Regions from separate parts of the Homo sapiens genome. Here region 2 is linked to region 1. The links come from fine-mapping of genetic effects on gene expression. Tissue or cell type: whole blood. Region 1 holds a variant in brackets; the other region holds the start of a gene. All regions are shown on one strand. Distances are from middle to middle. Region 1 overlaps LOC105378758 (a long non-coding RNA gene). Region 2 holds the start of HOOK1 (hook microtubule tethering protein 1).

Region 1 (2,913 bases):
TCTGCCCTTTCACTTGGCTAATTCCTAGTCATTCAATAGATTTCACCTTAAGTATTTAACTGCAGAGAAGACCATCTTGACTTCTACCTAACCCCATTTGTATTAAATCATATCTATAACCCTTTTATAAAGAATCTGGTATTTTCCTTCATAGCATTTATAACAACCCATTTGTGCTTTCATTTATTCAAAGTCTTTTTATGTATATATACATGGGTTAGTATATATACATACATGTATTTTCTATCTTTTTCCACTGAGAGAAACTAGAAGCACTTCCGGCACCCAGATCTTGGTTTCTGATACCATTCTCCAATAAAAGGAACCAGTGTTCTTTGGAGAAATCACTGATTCTAGGGCAGGGGTGGGAAAATCCAAGATAAGCCTGGAGCATTTTGTAGTGACAGAATGCAAGGAAGGGCTCAACAAAATGGGGACATGTGAAAAGGGCACAGTAGTCAACCTGAAAAAGCTCCCATTGGCCAAAGCTAGGCAGTGGGAGCTCTAACTTGTTGCCCCAGTTAGGGAAACAAAATAAATGACAGTATTGGAATATAACCTAAAAAATAAAATGAATATTCATGAATGTTTACTGAGTGATAAATGATTGAATAAATAAATAAATGGAGGAGAAAGGATAAATATTTCCTGCCAAATTCCAAATGATAAACGTAGTTGCTGCCTCCTCCACGATGTAGAGCTTAACTCTGCTTCCCTTGTGAGGGCTGGATTTAGTACTCACTTCTAACTAACAGAATATGAAAAGGGAAAAATAGAAACTTAACAGCAGAGAAATCTGCCATGTATCACCTTAACTAAATTAATAAGGTTAACATCATCAATGATAGCTCATGTTTATAGCTTGTATCCTTGATGTGATGTGGTGAGAAGGGCACTTTGCCAATATGTCATTTGTCCAAAATATTCAGAACTCTAGTCTACTTATATGAACACATCAGACAAACCCAAATGCGGGGACTTTCTCCAAAATGCCTAACCAATCCTTTTTTTTTTTTTTTTTAGATGGTATTTCGCTCTTGTCACCCAGGCTGGAGTGCAATGGTGTGATCTCGGCTCACTGCAACCTCCGCCTCCTGGGTTCAAGTAATTCTCCTCCTCAGCCTCCCTAGTAGCTGGGATTACAGGTGCCCGCCACCATGCCCAGCTAATTTTTGTATTTTTAGTAGAGACAGGGTTTCAACATGTTGGCCAGGCTGGTCTCAAACTCCTGACCTCAGGTGATCCACCCACCTCAGCCTCCCAAAGTGCTGATATTACAGGCGTAAGCCACCAGGCCTGGCCCTAATCAATAATTTACAAAGGTGTCAAGGTCACAAAAAACAAAGAAAGTCTGAGAAACTAAAGAGATATGATGATTCAATGAAACATGGTGCCCTGGATTGGATCCTGGAAAAGGAAAACATTAATCAAAAAATTGGCGAAATTTGGTTAGAGTTTGTAATTTAGTTAGTAGCATCGTACCAATGAAAGTTTCTTAGTATTGATAAATACTGTATGGTTGTGTGAGTTGTTAACATTAGGGGAAGCAATGTGAAGGGTATATGGAACTCTCTATTGTTTGCAAGTCTTCTGTAAAACTAAAATTATTACAAAATGAAAATTTAAAAATGTCTTCTTCTACTAAACTTTAT[C/T]TGTTGCTCACTACTGTATATTCATTTTTGGAACAGTGATGTATGGTGGGTAAAACTGTGGTTTCTCGAGGCTGGATGCATGTTTGATTTCTGGCCCTGCTATTTATGAACTATGGGAGTGGCAAGTTTCTTAAGGACTTCTTGTCTCAGTTTCCTCATCTATAGAAGGGGCATAAGGTGGTTGCGAGAATTGGAGGGCTTAATATATATAAAACACATACAACAATGCAAGGTTAGTTATTACGGGTATAATTTCCATTTAATATGTCATTGTTGAATGAGTGAATAAATGATTCAGGGCTTTTTGCTAAGTGTGAATCAGGATTGAATTCAAGTCAGAGAGAATATTTGAAGAAGAGGCAGGACATAGAGTAGTTTGTTTACAGTGGAATGGAGGCTCTGTAAGGCATAGCTGGTGGGTTGGCACAAGGATGGCAGAAGGATAAGGAAAAACTGTGGGGCATGTAAGCCAGGAGTGATACTGTTATGGAAGTGTGTATGAGGGCTTTGTGTTTGGAGCAGTGGTGAAGGTTGACAAACAAGGGCAATTGGTCTCTCCTGGGCATATTGCCTTCAAATTGGTTCTTCACTTTCTCCTGCTCTGCTCTGTATTTCAGGGGACTGACCCTTGAATTCTGCATATTTGGCCAGTGGGAGGCACTGGTGGAACACTAGAGGGAGGGAAGAGGGGAGAAGTTGGAATGTTTCTCCCCTCCCTCTCTGTCTTGGGCAGCAACTCCCCAGCAGCGCCATCTCCAGAACAGTCCTGCCAGGATGCCAGCTTCGCCCAGGGGCCCGTAACACTGCCTCTTCCTCTGTCCCTCTGGCCTAGGGTCTTAGTGGTTCCCTTCAGTTATGATTCTCTGGGTTGCCTCACTACCCCATGCTTGGCTCTCAGTTCCTCCACTTCTGTGTAATTAATTCCCAGTTTTTAAATCCCTGTTATGAATACTCAGCTGGCAGCTATTTCCTGCTTTGACTCTGACAGAAACAAAAGGCACGATGGAATTCCCTGTCTTCCAGCCTGACTTAAACTCAGGGGAAAAGATTTTTCAGTGCTACCATAGATAGAAACGCTGGCTACTTTCCTAATTGCTGGTTATAGGGTCCGTGTGCTGTGACCTGGCCTGGGCTTCAGATCATTGCAAAGCTTAGAAGGAGGAGGTGCTGATGAGAGCCCATTTAGGCGTATATCATGCACCACTGCCTTATGGAGAGTCCTGGACAGAACTGGACCTGATGGAAGGGAAAGATCTGATGG
Region 2 (2,913 bases), 36 kb before region 1:
ATTAGATCACTAGGGAATCTCAACCGATTACAGCCTCCTGATCCCGTCTGTTTACATTCCATCTGCACACACTCCCCTAGACGCAACTAAACAACTGGTTTGGGATGAGCATCATCAACAGCACCTTGTGGCTCATCAAACACCATCTTTACTCAATATGGGTTAAGAACCACACCTGAATGCCAGCACTGATATCTAAGTAACTCTAAGAGGTGGGATGTCATTTTGCTGACTGGAATATTGAACAATCTGGGGACAGATATGCCTGTCCAGACCCAACACAAATTAACAAAAATCCTAAACACAGATAAATCCTAAAGAAAAATGTCAACTCATTTTCTTTAAAGAAAATGCTGTCCATTTAGAGGAGGAGAGGGCCAGCGAGAAAAAGGGAAAACGACCCCCGACTCCCAACACATCTTTTTCTCCATACGGGAAATACAAACATCTCTTTGAAGCGGCTTCTACAAAATCGGATGTTCTAGAGTCCTGAAGGAGCATTGGTCCGGGAACTAAAACAGCCAGCCACCTCCTGGCCACCTGTGTCCAGGTAGAGCAAGGTAGTTTGAGGATGCAGGGTTAGGTTTCGGAAAGGGTCTTCACGCCCAAGCGGACCAAGGCAAGAGAGTCGGCGATCCAGAAAGTGGAGGGCTCGGGCGCTGTTCAGGGGGAGAAAATGGGGCAGCGGGGAGAAAAGAGGATGGGTGCTTGGTTCATATCCCAGCTGTTAGGGCACCAGGCAGGTCGAATCCTCTGGTTGAGACCAGAGCCTCCACTGTTACGCTCCCAGAGCTTCCTTTACCCCCACCCCCGGACACCAACCCGCGCCCACACACCTGCCCGTCGACCCGCAGGTGGCATTCTCTCGGTCAAGGGCACGAGGTGAGAAGGGCAGGGTGCGCCGGGACCCTGTGCAGGTAGCCCCAGCTCACCTGGGAGAACCGGGCGCCCCAGGCTCCTCGCCTCGGCCCCCTGGCCCCCTCGCCCTCTCGCCTCCTCGCACTCACCCAGATCATGAGGCTGTCGCACAGGGGCAGCTTAGGCTGCGGCGGCGGCTGCGTCTCCTCCATGGCCGGCGCCGCCGTCGACGACGCCGCGGACACCTTCACACTCCCTCCTACCGGCTCTCCTCCAGGAGCCGGCGTCCACGACCTGCTAGCCCCCAGGAAAGCTCGGTACCAGGCCCGACCCGCGCAGCTCACGCGCGAACCCTCGCGCTGTCGACGCGTCCGGCGTCACCCCCTCCTCACCCGCCCCCGCCTCGCTCCAGCGTTCGCCCCCTCCCCTTCCTGGGCCCCGGCCGCGCTGCCAGGCACCTGAGCCCCGCCTTCTCCCACCCCTCCCCTCCTCCCACCCGTCCTGCCCACTCCCGCACACCTCGCCCCGCCGCCCTGAGTGACCTGGCCGCGCACCAGTCACAGAGACGGTAGGTACCCGGGGGGGCGGGCGGGGCGGGGCGGGGGCGGGAAGAACCGGGATAGGTTGCGCAGGGGGGATTGCTGATTGGACGTGCCCTCGTGGGCTCTGGCCAATCAACGTGAGACAAGCCTGAGCCTTGGGTAGAGAGTGAGAGTGGGTGGGAAGAGGTTTATGACCTGGCAGGTGCAGTGAGGGCGGGGGTGGGAGGTTGCGCGCGGGAAGCGAGCGCGCGTGCGCGGCGGGGATTGGTAAGGCTGAAGCTCAGCCCCAGTGGCCGAAGAGGCAGAGGGGCAGCAGGGCACCGGCTGGGCTCAGGCGTCTTCCCTCCTTCTTCGCGGTAGCACGCCGCCTCGCTACACCTGTGGAGGGCCCACACTCTGCTTCCACATTGTCTTCAGAAATAGATCCTACCGGCTGGGCGAGGTGGCTCACGCCTGTAATCCTAGCACTTTGGGAGGCTGAGGCGGGTGGATCACCTGAGGTCAGGAGTTCGAGACCCGCCAGGCCAAGATGGCGAAACCCATTCTCTACTAAAAATACAAAGATTAGCCGGGGGTGGTGGCACATGACTGTAATCCCAGCTACTCAGGAGGCTGAGGCAGAAGAATCGCTTGAACCCGGGAGGCACAGGTTGCAGTGAGCCGAGATCATGCCACTGCACCCCAGCCTGGACAAAAAACCGAGACTCTGTCTCTAAAAAATATATAAAACAAAATAAAGAAAGAAAGAAATAGATCATACCCATGAATTAAAACTCTTCGAGGAAGGAAGAGCTGATTTCCTCCTAGGCACTCATTGGAAAGGGATGTTTTCATTTGCACACGTGGCAAATATGCCACATTAATAAGGAAAATAGAATCCGTCAGTGCTCCTTAAATAAGCTCTCACGGGACCATAGATCATGAGCAATTTTATTTTACATGGGGCAAAAGGGAAGACCGTTTTCAAGTAGCAAAATAAACGAAATGTTTTGAAAAACATGGAAGATATTAATGTATCCATTTTCCTTTGTCAGTTGAAAATTTGCTTTTTCCGAGAATGTTGTGGGGTGGAGGGGGGTCGGGGGAGGTGACCTGAAATTGGAAGCTCTCCAAGGTATTGATAGATGGCTTAGGTGATTGAAAAGGGCTAGACTATTCTTAGTCTTGCTGTCACTTCACTCATTCATAAACTCATCAATTCATGCTCTGAGTAAGAAAACAGCTGGCTTTTTTTTATATTGCTGCGTTTTTATATTTAGACACTGAAAATTTAAAACTGATGGACGACTGCAATTAAAAGCCCCCAAGTGTAAATCAGTCTCATTCTAAAAATACAGTATGTACGTTTGCTATTGACTCCCTTAACATTATTCCAGAACTTTCTTAACGCCTCTGGAGTCACTTTATATGCTGGAACTAGGTACATTGGTAATGTGATTTAATTAAAACTACAAGATTTAGGAATTGAAGACCTGGTCTGAATCTTGACTTTATTCCCCACTGGCTGCTCTCC

Evidence for each region.
Region 2: it holds the start of HOOK1, and the variant in region 1 is fine-mapped to the expression of HOOK1 in whole blood (TOPMed, PIP above 0.99).

What each region holds. Positions count from the first base shown.
Region 1 is chr1:59,777,101-59,780,013 of GRCh38, reverse strand. All of the region lies in intron 4 of LOC105378758 (a long non-coding RNA gene), which reads left to right. All of the region lies in intron 2 of LOC101926944 (a long non-coding RNA gene), which reads right to left. Among named protein-coding and RNA genes, the nearest start is that of HOOK1, 36 kb to the left of the region's middle. The variant C/T (reference allele first, on the strand shown) is at 1,653.
Region 2 is chr1:59,813,275-59,816,187 of GRCh38, reverse strand. HOOK1 (hook microtubule tethering protein 1) reads right to left here and starts at 1,239. Exons shown (of 22, transcript NM_015888.6): 1 at 1,008-1,239. The coding sequence starts at 1,070. It overlaps LOC105378758 (a long non-coding RNA gene), which reads left to right and starts at 1,322. Exons shown (of 5, transcript XR_947426.3): 1 at 1,322-1,426. RefSeq lists an enhancer at 372-935 and a silencer at 1,172-1,771.